Regions from separate parts of the Homo sapiens genome. Here region 1 is linked to region 2. Evidence: fine-mapped expression QTL. A gene starts in region 2. The other region holds a variant in brackets. All regions are shown on one strand. Distances are between the middles of the regions. Region 1 has its middle 65 kb from the start of VGLL2. Region 2 holds the start of VGLL2 (vestigial like family member 2).

Evidence for each region.
Region 1: its variant is fine-mapped to the expression of VGLL2 in atrial appendage (GTEx, PIP above 0.99).

What each region holds. Positions count from the first base shown.
Region 1 is chr6:117,196,136-117,205,749 of GRCh38, forward strand. No RefSeq gene overlaps it. Among named protein-coding and RNA genes, the nearest start is that of VGLL2, 65 kb to the right of the region's middle. The variant G/C (reference allele first, on the strand shown) is at 4,073.
Region 2 is chr6:117,259,852-117,269,465 of GRCh38, forward strand. It overlaps VGLL2 (vestigial like family member 2), which reads left to right and starts at 5,707. Exons shown (of 4, transcript NM_182645.3): 1 at 5,707-5,993; 2 at 8,331-8,640. The coding sequence starts at 5,913. It overlaps LOC105377964 (a long non-coding RNA gene), which reads right to left and starts at 5,223. Exons shown (of 2, transcript XR_942911.3): 1 at 4,724-5,223; 2 at 2,411-3,332.

The sequences.
Region 1 (9,614 bases), 64 kb before region 2:
AAGCTGACCATCAATTCACTGCAAACGTTATTGATGCCTTGGTTTTTCTCTTTAGTCTGTTCTGATGTTTTTCTAAAGAAACAGTCCTGAAGCTCTGAAAAGTCAATTAGTACTTTTACAGACTTTTTGAAGGTCTTCTTAAGGAACATCTTTTCATTCACATGCCCTTCCTACAGACCAATCCATGACTTAAAGTTGTCACATACTCCATAAAATACTAAGGAACTTTTCATTCCTATTTATAGGAATTTAGGAAAAGTGCCCTCAAAGCAACACATCCCGTTAGCAAGTCTTTCATCTGGCTTGTTAGAAGTTCGTGCTGGGAAGTTTCTGGGCACAGCTCCTACAGTCAAATCTGTCATGTCCCTCTGATTACATGATTCTGTTTTATTACCAAATCTGATTCGTAAGCTCTTCTGCAAAGGCCATTTCTAAGAGGATTCAGGAGTACCCAATTACACGGCATCTCTATATCTTTTACTAAACTTTATTAGATATTATATCCATGCCATAAAAAGTCTGGAAATACTTTAATAGCAAGCCAAGTCATTTGAGATTTATACATGATTAGAAAGAAAATTACTCTCTACAAGTTTCCATTCCAGCCTTGCAAGTGGGTCTTCCACAACCGATTAGATCGCGCCAACTCCCACTCCACACTCTTGAGCATTACTATCACATTGACTGAGCACTTCTTGTACTAATAGACCAAGCCTTGGCCCCAAATCCACTCCTCTCTACACCCTCTCAGGTTCCTGAAATTCCTGCAATCCCAGCTTTCTCCCTCTCAAGTATGCACGGCCATCCTCACATGACAATGCAATGTATATGTTCCATATTTTCTGCATCCCTCCACAAACATTGATTGTTTCACAAAGTAAACCATTATAATTCTAAATTGGCTGGAAGCTGATGGGTTTCTGCATCTTCTTATGCACAGGAATAACTAAATCACAAGCAAAAAAAATTAAACCACATTTCAATTTCTATAGGTAGCTAAGTACACATTAAGCATCTACTTTGGGCCCAACACTATGAGAGAAATCAGAAAAGTATGAGGAAATGGTTCTCAAAATGTGCTTCCGGTGACGCTAAGGCTCTCTGTAACATTTTAGGGGACTCCATGAAGCCAAAACTCTATTTTCATACTGTAACTAACATGCTATTTGTCTTTTTCACTCTTACTCTTGTATGAATAAACAGCGGGGTTTTCTAGAGAGTGTACAACATGTGATATTAGAACAGACTGAATGCAGAAGCAGGCATGAGAATCCAGCTGTCCTTTGTTAAGTCAGGTACTAAAGAGACTTGGAAAAATGAAGAACAATCCCACTCTGTTTTCTAAAATAACATTGTCTTGGAAAATCTAGTTATATTTTATAAAATATGTGACTTATATTAGTGTATAATGGATGAGTTACTTTAAATAAATTAATAAATGAATATTTTATTTTTGTCAATATTAATATCTAAAATGATAAATATCAGTAGATATAACTACATAAACAAAAACTCTTTGGGGTTCTCAATAGCAATTAAGAATGTAAAGGCATCCTGATTCCAACACTTTTTGCTAGAGGTTGGCAAAACCAAGTTCTGCCTCCATGCTGGGATGGCAATATTGGATCCTGGTATTTCTCAGAGCACAGAATCTACAGTATAAACACATCTTTCTCTTCCTAACATTGCTTCCTCCCAGAGTATAACTTTGGGATAATTATGCTAGCTCTCTTCCTCTCACCAGCTATGAGGATTAGAAGTGACAAGGAGTCAACAGGACAAAAGCTCCGTCCTGACACAGGGGTGTAGGTGGCTGGTGGGTTGGTGGTGCAATGTGCAGATTGAAGGTGCCCTGGAAGAAGGGCAGAGATGGTAGGGGGCTATAGTTAGGTGCTCATGAAAATTCCAAACAGAATTTTGGATGTAGAGAGTAGACTTTTCGATGTAGAAGTAGAAAGTTGAACACATGAGTGAATTATGTAAGGAAGTCATGGGCATAGAAAAGTTAATTTAAACAATGGAAACAGATGGATTTTTTCAAGGAGAGTATACAGAATTATAAGACAAAATGCCCAGGTCACAACTCCAAATGATCCTAATATTTAAGGCACAGGTAATAGAAGAGAACCCTGCAAAGGACACTGAAAGAAAGGGGTCAAAGTGGAAGGAAAACTGAGTGTGGTGTTACAGCAGCCAATGAAAAAGAACATTTCAGAAAGAAGGGAGTGTCATCACTTGAATGCTGCTGAGAGATCACATGAAATCAGCATTGAAGTGTGCCTGTTAGTTTTAACAACAAGGTCACTGCAATCTTGGCAAAAGCCATTTCATAGAATAAACATCTTTTGTTTCAGTCTGGTTATAAAATCAAACCATGAAATTTTGATTATGAAAGATGCTTAGCAAAACCTTTTTCAATTTCCTATTTTCTTACTCATACAAAAACATAGTAATTTTTAAAACATGATGTCTTTTGAGCCCAACATATTTAAATGTCTTTTGTCCTTGTTGGTCACTACTGAGAATGAATTAAATCTTCTCAATAGTGAAGTGTTGAAATAATTTATTACAGGTAGGAAGTATCTCCAGCCTGAAAGTTCCTGTGTAACGGAGGTGTTGGTCATCTACAGGAAGGTGCCCATTCTAGAAACCTCGTCATAAACTGTATTTGAGTTCTGAAGGCATCAAGAGAGATGGGATGGGTCGTGGCTATAACTGAAAGGGAAGAATAAACCTACCATAACCAGGAAGAATGGATCCTTTAATTCTGAAGTGATTACATTTGGAGGGGAGGGGTTATTTAGTTGATTCTATTTAGTTTTTTGCTTATTTATGTTTTGGCTGTGATTTTAAGTATTGTGTGATAGAAAGAGTAGCAGCCTGAGTCTGGTTGCCCAGGCTCGAGTTCCTTCCAGAGGTACAGCAGGCTCTGTGTCTTCAGGCTTCCTCTGGACTTAGCAAGGCTTAATCTCTCAAGTAAATATAAAGGTGCACACCTGCTATAGACACATCCAGTGTGAAGACAGCTAATTCCCTACATAAGCTTCCATCAAAAGAATGTACCCACCATTATCTGAAACCTTTCTTCTAGTCTCCCTGTTTTCTTTGCATCATTATCTCCATGGACCTCTACATATTCTTGGAACTCCTTCCTCCATAATCAATGAAAACAGAAGTGATTATTTTCCTCTAAATTCCTCTATGGAAGACATGTGGCAGTTAAACAGTTAATCATTACTACTTTTTAAGTAGCTCTTCTACTATGAGCTCAAATTGCCATTGAATTCTTTTGTTGTGGTTGTTTAATTTTTCCTGCATTTATTTTTTGCCTCTAAAAACAGATCCTATGCTCCTTGATGGGAGAAAAAATTTCTGATTCATCACTGATTTCTCCCACGATACCATTTATGGTAATACCCATAAAGTGGGCAGTCAAAAGATATTTAGTGAGAAGTTTGAGAAATAAGTGTAAAAATATTTTAAAAGGTAAAAATGTCACACAAATATAAAGAATTGTTGTTACTGTCCTTTGCTATAATTTCAATGATAATTCCGCTTCTATAAGATACCAGTCAAATGAAAGAGAATGCCTTGATTCTCAAACCCCAACACATTCCTCCTGTGATATAAAAGGCCTCCAAACTTTGAAATCATAAAATTACATTCATCTAAAATATATGGTTATATATGTTTGCTCTGCTTTTCATCATTCATGTCAATAGTTCATTATTTTGCTTTTACTCCTTAAACTCTCCTACAGCTAGACAGGACCATTAGCAACAGAATTGGGCTACTCTGGCAATATTAAATGGCTAAAGGCCAGAATGCAGTCAGTCTAGTTAGCTGGTCTATTTTAATTTTGTTTCTGCATAATGAAAACAGTCTGCTAAGATGCGTGTGACTTACGTTGACCCACGGATACATCCATTTTTTTTAAATAGATGTCTCTTCTTTATTGAAGACAAGTATGTCTTGTCACAATTTGGCTGCCTAATTTTAGCTCCAGTGGGGTTTGCTTAGACACCAAGCTCCAAATCCAGGCCAGAAATAGGCAGAAGAGTGATGGTCATGT[G/C]TTTAACAAGATCCCAGGCAACGGGCCAACACACATTGGAGCTAGGTTGGAATTTCTTGCCCTGTGAAAATGCAGTGCTAAATCTTCCTATCCCTCTTCTCTCTTTCTCTACAAGTGGATCTCCCCTGTACAGTGAGCTGTCACCTGAAACTAACAAGGAGGATGTGACTCCCAGCAATCTGAGCTACAGTGAATAGTGCGTGACCTACCAGTCTTGACATGCCAACTTGGACTATCATTTCTAGAATGGTTGAAAAATAAATTTTAATGTAGTTCACCTCGATATATGATTTCATTAAAAACTTTTAAAATGGGTACATCTTTACAGTCCTTTGACACTCTCAGCATGTAACACATAGTATTTCTCTCTCTCTCTCTCTCTCTCTCTGTCTCTCTGTAGAAAATTGCTCCTTGTTCTTGTTTCACACTTTCTCATTAGGGCTTTTTAAATAAATATCTATAAAGAGTGAACTCCTACACTCCCCACTCTCATCCTTTTGATTATTATTTGTAGATTTACTGAGAAAATTATTTTTAAGCTTGTAAGTACACCTTGTTGTTTTTAAGATATCTAAATTTGGCTATATGTTCATGTTTCCCCAACTTTCTAGGGCCTTCATATCCTCTTTCATAGAAACTTTGCCATATGTTAAGGTAGTCTATAGAGCCAAAAATAAAAATAGCACATTTATAAATGTGTTTGTCTTTTCTATGACTGACTCTCTAGGATACCTAAAAAGGAACATATAAGAATGAAACAGTCTCTATCAGAAAAGACAGAGAAGCCTGCGACCTCATACAGCATAAAATCTTTGAGTTATTTTCTGAAGATTTTTTGAACAGTTATTAGCTACCTACAGTTCCCAAAATCAAAGAATCAATATATATTACAACCAACCACCATATTTAAAGATTTAATTAAAGTTCTGAACTCTAATAAAAAAAATTTACCCCGGGGAAACTCTTAAGGTGTATTAACTGTGTCCCACTCAAGGGGAAATATGAGTTTCACATTGGATCTAGAAAACCAGACTTGGGTTCCTCTTGGTATAAAGGGGGCATTGGCTATAAGAAGTTTTTTCCAGCAGTGGTAGAAATGGATATGCTATGATCTTTCCTTCTTACCTGTACCTTATTGTGACTTAAACATGGAAGGTAGGGAAACCATCTCTGATTACAGACCTAAGTCACACCCCTCTACCACATACCCAGAAAAGAACATCTGTTACACAGACTGATTAATTCAGTGAACCACCCAATAGGACCAACAGCATCACCACTTAGCTAATGGGCTAATAGATGGAGATGAGCCAGCGGCTTATGTAATGATCCAAACTTTAATGATAAAGGAAAGTCCTAAGCATGATATTAAATATTTTGACTGTGAAATATCTCACTGTCATTATTATTGATCTAGAGATGGATCTTAAAAAGCTTATTGGGAGGTCATGGGAAGGAAGCTAAAAATGGTTTTAGACATAAAACCATTCCTTCTCTCTCTGCGAAGGCCTTCCTCAGGGAACAAGGATGCCCCTTGAGGAGGAAAACCCCTTCAGCTCCTGGGACTCACTGTGCTCTCTCCTGCTTCTGGGCCATTGCACCTGGCATCCCTTTTGATGCTGCGCTCTTCTCCTCAGTCCCCCTTTGCTGACTAACAGGTCTTGGGTTCTTCTGTCACTTCTTCAGGAGTAAGGCAATAAGAGGACAGGGACACTTGCTAAGTCAACCAGACACACTGGAGAAACCCTGGTCAATGCCTTCGCCAACTTATCTGCATCTCCTCATTAACAGTTTTGCTGACTGTTGTTCTCCTCAATACTCTATACTTAATCATATTCATTAAACTCCTAAAATAAGAAAAGCACAGTACAAAGTACTAAGAAATAGTAACTATTAAAGAGGGAGAGTGGTTGCCCTCAAAGAGATCGGAGTCTAGCAAAAGGGAGAAACATACAAACAGGTCATAATAGCACAAAACAGTAAGGCTATACAGAATGTGTGGTCAAAGTGCTATAGCATTTTTTGTTTTTTTGTTTTTTTGAAAGGGCGTTTCGCTCTCTGCCCAGGCTGGAGTACTGTGGCACAATCGCCGCTCACTGCCAGCTCCGCCTCCCGGATTCAAGCCATTCTCCTGCCTCAGCCTCGCGAGTAGCTGGGACTACAGGCGCCCGCCACCACGCCCGGCTAATTTTTTGTGTTTTTAGTAGAGACGGGATTTCACCGTGTTAGCCAGGATGGTCGCGATCTCCTGACCTCGTGATCCACCCCCCTTGGCCTCCCAAAGTGCTGGGATTACAGGCATGAGCCACCGCGCCCAGCCATGCTATAGCATTTTCATAGGTGGAGCTGAGTATGTAAGGTTGAGTAGGATTCTTACAGGTGAGGAGGCAGGAAGAACATAGTAAGCAGGAGACAAAACATAACCAAAGGAAAGACATCACTGGCGGTAGAAAGAAGTGTGTGTGAGTGCTACTTATGGGAGATGAGCTATGCTAGAGAGACTGGGCAGGATCAGTTATGTAATTTGTAGGACCTGGTACAAACTGAAAATGTCAAGCCTGTGGTTCAAAAAGCAGGGGGAGAAGTTCAGTTAAAGATATACCGACATATAAAACTTTTTCCTTTTTTAACAAAAAGGAATGGAGTGATTGTGATACAGGACTACAATGTAAACTTGTAAATTGCAATATATATATATATATATAGGGATCATCGTTTTATGTAACATAGTGAATAATATCTTATTAACATGCTATCTTGGTTGATCATATGATTTTCTGGTCATTTTTCTACAAATCTGTAAGTTCAAAATATTGACACATTTAGCAACTTCATTTTCAAACAATATAATTAAAAGCAAGTCACTATTGGCAAATGCAAAATTGCAAACAAATTTTGATCTGTTTTAAACTTAATTTTAAACTTCAGAATGATCTTTCCACTGTTTCAAACTTAATAGAATTGTTAAGGTTATTTTGCAGGCTATGGCAACATTGGGATACATTTCTGATAAATTATTTCATAATATAAACGTTGGTATATCTAGAGCTGATGATCCTTGCAGAACCATATTTTAAAGATTTGACTCTTCAAGCAAATCAATTTCATGTATGTCTTAATTTAACTTTTTAAATGTAATTTCAAATGTAAATGTATGCAATGACATTTTTGTTTTCTCTATCATTTCTTGAAACTTGTGGCAATTATACAAGAAACTTAAAGCAATTTCACAATTTACATATAATTCAAAATACCTGTTTATGCATTTCACCTCTGTGGCTTCCATTATAAGGAAAAATTAATTTTAAAATTTTCTTTCCTATTAATGGTTCACCTGCAGTTTCATATGAAAATAGCATTAGTTTCTGTCAAATGTGATAATCATTTCATTTTTATTTATAAGCCTGTGGATATTTGCTTTGCAATGTTGCAGCAGTTTTCAAAACCAGAAATTCAAAATTCTTTGGAGAATTCTAATAATTCCCTGAGACATTTTTATCCTATGTCTTATGTATGCTTCCACTTTGTAATGATTTACTGACAATGTTCCTAATCATTGATCTCCAGAGTTCCTGACCTTTCACTCAAGCCAGAGAATTCCTATTTGCACAGATGCACAGGGATGGACTCCGGGGATCAGCAGGCAAGCCTGCTTACCAGCATAGTCCTGGCATTGGCCTCATGCAAAACCCTTCTCTCCCAGAGCCATAGCCCCTGCTGCCACTGCAGCCACTGCTATTGCTTCTGCTTCTACTCTGACATTGCCACTGCTAATCTGGGCCCAGGTTCTAGCCTTGGTCACCCCTTGGGGCCAATGACTCCCAGGGTACCCCAGGCACATGCATGCCAGTAGGCCAGACCAACTGCCCAACTGTTGCTGCCACAGACCTGAGCCCACACATGTACAATCTGCTACCTGGCATGCCTCTGCTGCTCCTGGCTACACTCTGTTGTTTTGTGTGACATCACTTACAAAACACAGGATCAAAGATAAAATCATTAAGAATTTCAAGAAGTCCATAGCAGAGGATTAAGTTGAGCATGGGGCCTCATTACAGGGCAGGGACTCTGTGACTGCACTGCCACTTTCCCATAAAGCCTGCCTTGGGGATGGGGAATACCACGTAGGAAAGAGAGTCTTTAAAGTGTTCTGGGGACAGGTTTTAAAGTTATTTGAATGACTTAAGAGCTCGTGATGTCCTTTAGATACAAAAGATTTTCACGTGGGGAAGGACATTAAATTTGTTTTTTATAAAGTTCACTCTGGCGTCTAATCATGTAGAAAGACTAGTAGGTAAGTCAACTAAAAAACTGTTGGATAGTCTAGGAAAGTGGTTTTGAAAGACTGAATTTAGGGACAGTAACAGATTCAAGAAATAACCATAGTATTTTGAGTAACAAATGTGTAGCAGACACTTTAAAAACATTTTGGCCAGGCACGGTGGCTCACGCCTGTAATCCCAGCACTTTGGGAAGCCGAGGTGGGCGGATCATGAGGTCAGGAGATCAAGACCAGCCTGGCCAACATGGTGAAACCCCGCCTCTACTAAAATTACAAAAATTAGCCAGGCGTGTGGCGCTTGCCTGTAATCCCAGCTACTCAGGAGGCTGAGGCGGGAGAATCGCTTGAATCCAGGGGGCGGAGGTTGCAGTGAGCCGAGATCGAGCCACTAGACTCCAGCCTGGGCGACAGAGCGAGACTCTGTCTCAAAAAAAAAAACCAAAACATTATTTCTAATCTTCAAACAATCCTCTAAGGGACTTATTATCCCTGATAATATCCCAGATGGTCAACTGAGGCAGCTGACAGCCTCAGGGTCTAGTTTCTCAAGGTTACAAAGTAGGTAGAGCAGAGCCACCTTTAAGCCCTGGGCTTCCCCACCTCCCCCACTGCATACCAGTTCTTTTCAGCTCAAGGAAGACACCCCACAATGTGGTGACTGATCTATGCAAAGTGTCAGGGAGAAGAAAGAGTCTAAGATTTATTTAACATTTTCCCTCCCTGTCCTACACCCTCCAAAGTCCTCCAGCTTGTCCATATTTATTTCACTTGTATTTGTAAAATGAGGAAGTTCTGGAAATATAATGTACAGCACAGTGACTACAGTTAATAATACATTGTACATATATTTAAAATTGGAGAAGAGGGTGAATTGTAAGTGTTCTCTCTACGTCAATAAAAGAAAATGGTAATTATGTGAGGTGATGAATATGTTAATTAGCTTGATTGTGTTCATCACCAATGTATACAAATATCAAAACACCAAGTTGTATACTTTAAATATATATAATTTTTGCCAATTATCCCTCAATAAGGCTGGAAAAAATGTCCTTTGAGATAAAAAGGGCCAAATTCTGAAAGGGGAAACATTGAAGTAGGCCCTTTCAAGGTCACACATGTACAGTCAACATTCTATATACACTCTTTTTCTTTCCTCACTACTTCTCTAGTCACGTCGCACAGTGCTCAAGTTTGATCTGGTTTGGTTTAGTTTTTATTTTTCTTCCCCTAAACTGATACCCCACCTATCCCCCTTCCCCA
Region 2 (9,614 bases):
GAAAAAGAAAGCTCAGGGGTAAAAATATGTAGTCATTTTGAAGCACTTCAGAATTACTGTGTTCTTAAAACATTTCCAAATACCAATAAACATGACTAAGGTCATGGCTATATTCTGAGAACATGTATGTTTGAAGAAAGAATTAGCTATGCTTAGGAGTATAGGCATTAATTTACTAAATGGGAAGAACTTTTCTTAGTGAAAGCCTACTCTGAGACCTGAATTGCTCAGTATTATTTCTTATATGGTCATATTTAGCTGTTTTGTTTTTTGAATTATCTGGACAACTGACAAATTTCCACTCTGATTCACTGTGACAATAGACTGCATAGGTCATATAAAATGACATTTTTTAAAAATTTACATTGCAATGTTTTAAATTTGTTGGATAATGCTGCGAGTTTAATTATTTTAAAAATTAGTTGTCTCATGCTTCTCCTAAAGAAAGATGAAACAATAATACCACCTGGGGAGGTTTAATTTCATAGTCCACAACTGGACTTTCATCTTCAAATATGATGTGAAACATTTATAGTATGAAGTTAAGAACAAAAATTAAAAGTATTTCAATTTAACGACTACTATTCACACTTCCTTTCTGCCAAGGTAACTCTCCATAGCTTTGAGGTCTGCTTTCCAATGTAAAAAGGACCTTTGTTTCTTTCTAATGTGTTGGTATGGTTGCCTCCATTCAGCACTTCGTTTTATTATTTTTAAGTGCCAAATAAATAAAACAAACAATGGCAGTGTAGCATTCCATGCTAAAAATTATTCCATGCATGCAAAGAAAAACTTCCTATGAGAATTGTTTAAAAGCTGTTTTAAGAGCTCTTGATACAAGTGACAGGACACCACACTCCACACTCAGATGGATATCTTCACCTTCAGTCTGTTATTGCTGTGGTCTCCTTTTAATCCCTTCAGCATCCTGCTGAAATCAAGTTTATAAACAGAAGTTTGAGAATGGATCAACACCAACACTGTCAAATATCTAAGTCAACAGTTTAAATCCTTTAAGTCTACTTCCACTTTCTGAATCTGTAAATTCCTCTATCTCCCTATATCTTACAAAAGTAGTTTCACAAATATGTTAGTTGTGAGGCTTTCTCCAAACTGTGTGTCTTTAAAGAAAAGCAAATGATAGCATCAGAAATTATAAGCAATTAGAGCTACTTTTCCAGGCAAAGCAGAGATGACAGGCAATTTCTTCCTATTAAGAAATAATTGATATGTGCTCTCAGACTTAGCTATGCATGTCCAAGTATATCTTATACAATGTAAATTTCCTTCTAATTTTTTCTCTTGTGAAAATATGACAAGGCAAAACATTTGACACACATCTATTTTAAGTGTCCCTTTTTTGCTATTTGTATGTTACCATTGTTAAAGGATTGGGTCACATGAATTGAATTTGTATAATCTTATCTTTATATAACCATTTCATAGAGACTCATTAAAAAGAACTCATTTCTAAAAAGATGAATACGGTTTTAGTTATATTCCCCAGTCTTAGAAATGGGCACAAATGTTAACATGAATACAAGATAAACTAAATTCAAAAGATTGCAATTATTTCACCAAAGCTAAAGTTGACATGTACATAACATAAAAATAGGGTTTTAAATATGTAAAGAAGGAAAAGTTCAACATTCTTTTAATAATCCTCTATATGTCAATAAAAGTAACTTTATCTATTCATTTGAACTGACTATAGAAGATTTTTACCTGGAAGCACTGTTAAGAGCTACTCAAAGTTTGTATGAAAATAACTGAACCATCTTTTACTTATTTTTTTCACTAAGTCAAACTGTAATTCCTCCCCACTTAGCTTTTTAGTGAGGTTTCAGGATGCATGGATTTCTCTATTTCCCCCTTTTTTTCTTTAAAATTAAATCACCATTCAGTCCATTACTACAGTATTATTCCTAACTAACAGATCATGCCTGAAAACCCTGGCTTTTACAGAAATGTTTTTAACTAATATTGTTAACAGCTTGAATCCACAAAATCTTCTCAGCTACTCTCCCAAATCCAAACACAACTCCTGTCAGTAAAACATGAAAAAAATGAGTTTGTGGGGGAAAATCTGTGAGGTTACCATTGTGTTTATCCCCCTCGGTTGGCAACATGAAATGCCAACTCATGATTTAAATAAACCACTGGCAACGAAGGGCCTGGCTGGCTGCAAGTCAGTTCTCCAAATCAGTTCTATTCAAGTATCCTTGCTAAGCAGTGTCTTTGCGGTTTTCAGAATAAGACGACACAAGTGACAGATAGATTCAGAGATAATGAAATCAGCTAGTTTACGAAAGTGAGAGGTAAACCTTTCTGAAGAGAAAACAGGTATTTCATTGAGTTGCTATCTTGAAACATTTACTTGTGCTAAAGTAATTTAATTTCACTTATTAACTTCAAGACTAAAGGTGTCTTTATTTTCACAGTATAGATGCTGTTAGAATTGCAGAATAGAACTAGGATATTAAAAAAGAAATTTTGGTGCAATTTACTTTCATATAGCTCTTTCCTAGCAGTTCAATAAATGGCCATTAATCGATCATAAAGTGAAATTCTTTTCAAAGAGAAGTTTTGATACTCCCTCTGCCCAGTTAAGGAGTTAAAAGCCAATTCCACGCAACTGGGAACAGTTTATCTCACTGGGGGCTTCGGGCCCAAATTCAGGGACATCTGTTTGTTTTTCAGTCTCTTCTTGAGGAAGAGGACTCCAGAGGGAAGGAAAGATAATTTTCTCAACCTGTAGCCCATTCCCAAGACTCTGAATCTAAATCTAACTTCTTCAACCTTGATAATGTGCTGGTGGTTTGAATGGCTGGGAGAGTAAAGGGGATCAAATTTAGCTGTGTTTTACTTTCCGCTTCAGCGTAGAAACAAGAGGCAATCTCATGCGATTGAGAAGTACCACCCTCCTGTAAATGACAACTTTTCAGACATAGAGAAAAGACGAAACATTCTCCAATCTTTGGGACGTGTTTTAAAACTCTGGGATGTTTGTTTTTCTTCCTTCACTGTGGATTTAGGGGGAATAAAATGGTTTCCTTCCTAAATTCTAGATTGATGCTCACTGACCCAATTCCTTGTGTTCCTTCGAACTCCTGTGCAGTCCATACCCTCGCTTAGCTTCAGTGAGATTTTTAAAATTGTTTCAAGTAAGAGGAGATTGAGTAATGTGAATGTAAAGCAGCCTTAGGCAACTAGAATAATGTTCTCTTCAATTTCTTCGTCTGAGATACGCAAAATCGTTCTTCCTGTAATCCTTTCCGAAAATAACTTTCTGTTGGGCCTTGTTGGACTTGGAGAGGTTGTCATGATTTTCTCTGGAAATTGCAAATAAATAAATAAATAAAAAGGTCTTCTAGTACTATAGCCATCGTAAAATTTAAAAATGTCAAAGTGACCGGGTACTGGGAATAGGAGGTAGCTACTGGAAGGTGAGCAAGGACAAAAGCAGGGTTTCCATGCATTGGTTGGACATGCTAGTGGAGCTTGCCTTCCGCCGCTTCCCACCCACCAACCCCCATTCCCCCTGCACAACACTGCCAAGCCCAGGCTGCTCGAAAAGGAGCCGGCTTCAGCCACCGATGTTCACGCCCAGAGATGTCCAAAACGGAACCTCCGTGTCCAAGGAGGGACTGCGGGACTTGCGCGAAAGTGGGGGACCGGACCCTCCGGGGCCACACCCGCCCGCCCCGTGGAGTCCCTGGTGCGATGGTTGCGTTGACACCTGTACTCCTGCGGGCCTGGGTGAAGCCGACCCAGCAGAAAGGGTGCGCAGCAGCGGCCAGCGAGACTGGGACCTGAACTCCCCATCTCCCGCACACAGAAGAGCGTACTGTGGCTCTTTGGATGAGGGTTTCCTCTCTTGCCCCAAAGAAAATGATGATAGGTGGTTGTACCTATCTTCAGAAACGCCTAGGGAGGGCACATTGGGGTGGAGGTGGGATGGATGTTCTGCTTCACCCTTGCGCCTGGATAATCAGAAGCTCCAGAAGCTGGCAGATTTCATCCAACAGGCAGCTTGGCCCCTAAAAAGAGGCTTGCATGGAAATGTACTAGAAGAGTGTCTTTATTTTAACTTTTCATTGATTAGAAAACTTTACATAGATTACATTGTTGTTAATTAAGGAAATTGTCGAATCGCTCAAGATGGCTCACCAGTTACAAGCATTTGGAGACACGGAGCCATTTCCCATCTATAAATTGGGCAACACCAAAACTGCAACCCTAAAACAATTTGGCTTAAAATACTCACTTTTAAAACACAAATAGATCTTCAAGGGTTCATTTATTCACAGTCTTATAGCCTGAGACTCTATAAAGACTTTCTGTTGTATTTAAGCTGGGGAATAACTAGGGTTTGAAATCCATGCTGCCTCTTTCTTGAGTCTAGACTCTTAATGCTCCCAACCTGTTCCCTTGGTCCCCCCAAGTCTGGCCCGCCTCTATTCCCGTAATGCCCCTTCCGCCACCTGACCCAGCCATGGAGATAGCCTTGTCTCAATGCATTCCTAAACTTATAGAACTGAAGACTCCACTGTTACACCCCCTTTCCAGAGGGCTTGGTGGGGGGTAGGCTTGAGAAGGATGGGTAGGGTCGCAGGAAGGAGGGCGAAGCCAGCAGACCTCTCAGGGAGGGCCGGAGAGAGAAAGGGGTGAAGGTTTTATAGTTGGAGTGCATATACTTCCAGCTCTCCAAAATGAAACATACCATCGCAGCTGGTATTACCGGCTGAATAGGCAGCAAAAGACCTCTCTGTGTACGGGTCCTAGTATGCTTCTTCTTAGCGCCAACGAGTCCTTGTCCCCAAAGTTGCCAAAACTTTAAAGGACCCCGGCCAAGGAGACCCCAGCATGAAAAGCCAGACATCCGAGGCCGGGTAAAGCCTCCTGGACTCCTCGAAAGCAGCTCACACCGGGAGCAGCCGGAAGCGGGCGCGATCTATGCGAAGCTAACGGGTTCCGGTGGAGAACATCAAAGAGAAAGGAGCAGGATCGAACTTTAGAGGGGCAGAAGGGCACGGCCCAAGAGAGCAGAATTGGGGTGTGGGACAGGCGGCGGGAGGACCAGGTTAGAGGGAGCGAAAGGAAGTGGATTAGAGGACAGCGGTTACAGGTTTCAGCCACTGCCATTTCCCCGCAGAGGTAGCTCTTCTGCGCCCTGGAGGGGTACCCGGACTCCCACATCCTGTCTGCCACGACCCGGACTCCCTAGGGGATTCCAAGGGACAGCACCGTCCTCCCCATACATCATCAGGAACCGAAAGCAGAGAATTTGCCCCACCTCGGCACTTCTGGAAGCACCCACTCAACTACAGTATGAGACAAGGGCTTTCCTAAGAGACCTTTCTCCAACTTTCTTTCTCTGCGTGTATGAGCCCGGATCCCTTCGTCCCCGCCTCCTTCTCTCTCTCTCTTTCTCTCTCTCTCCTATTTTGTCCTGGGAGATTCCTACTCGCGGTGCGAAGCCTCGGATCCGCTGGGAACCGCATAGTCTCCGGCACCCTTGGCCGCATGCTTGTCAGAGGTGGGCCCCGGGAAACACACTCGCTGCCCCTCCAACAAGCGTCCCTCGCTCCCCATTGGCCCCCCGGTCCCCGCCCCCCACCGCCCCCTCCCGCTCCGCAGCCCCCGAGTGGCGTCAGCACGCCCGCCGGGCATGGGCTTTAAATGCCCACTAGCGGGAGCTCAGGCGCTTCTGCCCTGGAGCGCGGTCGGGAGTAAAATCGCAGGAGTGGGAGGGTAGCGAGCCAGCTGGATTCCGAGCCGCGGAGCGCGCTGGCTTTGCTCCGCCTGATGACTCCAGAGCGCGGGTCCAAGCGCCGCCCATGCAGCACCCCTGAGCTCCGGGGAAGGAGAGTTAATGAAAAAACACTTAACCGTCTCCGCTGCGGAGAGTCATGAGCTGTCTGGATGTTATGTACCAAGTCTATGGTCCTCCGCAGCCCTACTTCGCAGCCGCCTACACCCCCTACCACCAGGTACGTGTCTCCTCTGGGGACTTTGGGAAGGAGTGCGCGCCCCCCGTTTGCGGCGGCATGGCCTGTACGCCAAGGTCTGCTGTGCCTCCGCGCGTCTCGGGCGTCCGACCACGACCGGCGCAGCCGGGATGCGGGGATTGCCGGAGCCGCCCCCAGTTGGTAGTGCAATTAGCTAACCCCTTTAGCTCGCCTGTTTGCTCTCGGGAAGCAGCTAAGCCCTGCTAATGTGAGCCTAGGTCTTCCCTGGAATAATCAGAGGAAGATGGCACGGGCTGGATTTTCTTCTTAGGGTCTGTCGGACTCCAGATTCTTCCAAGCCAGGTGCAGGTACCAGGAAATGCAGGCAAAGCTGACGCAGGAAAAACCAAACTTTGGTCCCAATGGTGAGAGTAACAACAAAACCAAAAGCGAAGGCCAGCCAGCCTCTTTCTGAGATGCAAGGGCCGGTGTTCTCATCCCTGCAAGTTTATCTCAGGAATAATTTCTTCCGTTTCAATTCTCTGGCGACCAGGGCAATTAATTCCAGATCCAGAGAATTCATTTCAAAGAGCACCGCGCAGTTTTATAATTTTTTCCTTTGCGAAGTTCTGGGAGCATTATCCGGAGTGCGAATGACCCGGCAGAGGCGAGCCTGATAGACAATACTTTGCCTTTCTCCAGCCTGAGTAGGTGAATGGGGAAGCCCTGCTTCCAACAAACACTTTAAGAAGACCACTCAACCCGGGTTCTGCAAACTCTTCAAGTTCCATTTAATTCTGCCAGTTTCTCTTGTCTTCAGGCTGCGTCTGTTTGAACCATTTTCCTTCCATTTCCTCAGCTGAGGTAGCAGAAACTGAGGACAGTAGTGCAGGAAAAGAATGAAATCATACACCTGGGAGGCTGTAGGGGTCCCCTCCAGGTTGGAAAGTGAGAGCTTGGTCACCTGCTTTGGGGAAATTGAAATACACCCCAATGCCCCAGTGGATGCTTTTGCTAATTTTGCCTGCAAATTTAAAATGTCTATTCGAAAATTTCCCGATAAATTAATGATGGACCGGATAGGGTTCACTTTTTGTTTTCTTACCTCCTCTTCTCTTTTAAACTTCACAACTTGCAGTTTGTTTTGCCTCAGTGTTAATTTTAAGAATCACCAGAGTTCCTCTTGTAGGGAAGGTGGCATTTAGGAAGTGGTGATATTGCTAAATCTTACATCGTTTTGTCCCCAATTATTTCAAACCTTTTGGCTCCAGCTTCTGAAATGTACTTCTTCCCAGGGTGGGACTATGGCAAGCAAAGAGGAGAGAGGTGGATTGGTTTTCTGACTGGCCCTTTCTTCTCCCAGACCCCGAACCAATCTATTGCATGAAGATCTCTGTTCATTTTTGTATGACTCGGGCCGCCTCTTCAAGGCCATCTCTGCCTGCAGAATGCTTTAACACTTCATTCAGTCCATTGCTCATTTCTAAGAAAATGTTCACAGAAGCTGCGCCTGCTTTTTAAAATCACTATGAGACATGCCGATTTACCCCACCTCACAGCCAGGATCTTAACTTTCTTCTGTCTGCTCCTTTTTATCATTTCCTCAATGTGTGTGGAGATGATGGGGGTGGAAATACTCGTAATCCACTGGTCTTTCGTTATTAAAGAGAAGATCTGTTTAAAAACTGATATAGGGATAATAAAAAAAAAATCAACTTGCATTTATTAAAATGATCCGTGTTTCCCCAGTCATGTTACCCCAGATTTTTACCCCACACAATTCATTACTAAATGTAATTATTTCAAACTTTTTGTGGCATTTCTTCCTTTACATTCCTGTTGCTTTCCTTCACACATTCCTAGTTTCAGGGAGTGGATTTTGTAGGGGTAGGGGGTTGCCCCCCGCTCCTATTTCATCAGGAGGATGTTTATCCTGTATCCTGTGCTTCTGCCCTGGATTCTCAGGCAAGGAACAGTCAGGCTCTATCTGGACTTGGGTGCCCTTTACCCTTGGAGTCTGATTTTAAAAATATATCTGCCCTGAGCCCAGCTATGAGGTCAAACTCAGCTCTAAACCTAGCTGCTTAGGTGTCTCCTGAAACCTTCACCCAGACATTTTAGGAGAAATTTTCTAGGAGTCAGAGGGACCAAGGACAGCAATCTTCCTTTAAGGAAGCCCGTCCTTGCTTGGGTGCAGGTTGGGAGGCCTGCTAACTATGTTGCCCCGCTATTGCTAGTTTTATGCTAACAGCACAAGGCTTAAGCCCATATGCCAGTTTCCCCATAAATACCTTAGAGATTAGGATGAGGGAATCAGTCTGAACCGAATTTGCCATCGCTTTTGAAATTGATATCTCTGTTCTTTCTCTCTCTGAACAGAAACTAGCCTATTATTCCAAAATGCAGGAAGCGCAGGAGTGCAATGCCAGCCCCAGCAGCAGTGGCAGCGGCAGCTCCTCATTTTCCAGCCAAACCCCAGCCAGTATAAAAGAGGAAGAAGGCAGCCCAGAGAAAGAGCGCCCACCAGAGGCAGAGTACATCAACTCCCGCTGCGTCCTCTTCACTTATTTCCAGGGGGACATCAGCTCCGTGGTGGATGAACATTTCAGCAGGGCCCTGAGCCAACCCAGCAGCTACTCTCCTAGCTGTACCAGCAGCAAAGCACCAAGGAGCTCTGGGCCCTGGCGAGGTGAGTATAGGGCCCTGCTGGGAAGGACCCATAGGGGGTCCTCTCAGCCTGGGGTTCACCTACAGGAGCCTAAAAACATGCAGCTGAAAAGAATATTAGGTGTCAGAGAAGGTGTGCAGAGGAGCATTTGGAAAGGGTAAGGAAAACGCAGGGGTAAAGGGCATGGATATAAGAAAAAACTCCTTGGAAAAAACACTATCCTTGGAATTGGAAGACCTAGGTTTGTGTGTTGGTTCCACCACTTCCTAGCAATATAACCTTGGGCAAGTCTCAACCTCTTTGAGGTCACTCTATTTACTGCTCTCTTAAAGTAGAATAACACTTACCCTCCTAACCCCAGAGAAGGCTGTAAGACTCCAACAAGAAAATGGATGCAAATATGCCGTCAAAAACGTGAGGTTTCCAGCACCCTCCCAAACCAGTGAGTGAAGGAGCTTCACTCTAAAGAGCACTTTCCCAATCTGCCAACATTTTCCCAGAGGAAACAGTTCTAGAGCTCCATGCAAGCAAAACCTGTTTGAGAATGTCTCCTAAAACCTACCTTTGCCTTTCACCAGGCTCCAATTGCTTGAGAAATCTTGAAGCAGAAGCGTCTCAATAGCAAGTAAAATAACAAAGAAACAAAAATTTAGATACAGCCAGAACACCTCTAAGAGTTTTCCCAAAACACATCCCCTTTTTATTTTTCTACCTTCCCCCACAAAGCACTGCTTTTTTCTACCCTAGGACAATTATTTGTTGGACAACTCAACTAAATCTCCCTTCTATTCTGAAATCTCAACTTCCCTTTATTACCAACAAAACAAAGGTGGGGGAACCATTAAGTAAACTTGGCTCACTAAGCTGTATTTGATGTGTACCAAGCTGAGAAAGGGGGACTTTGTTGTAAAAACAAAAACAAATTTTCATTTGTCTTTGGGAGGGAAATTACAACCTTCACCCCCTTTTTTCCCCCTTAAGAGACGCTGGCAGTT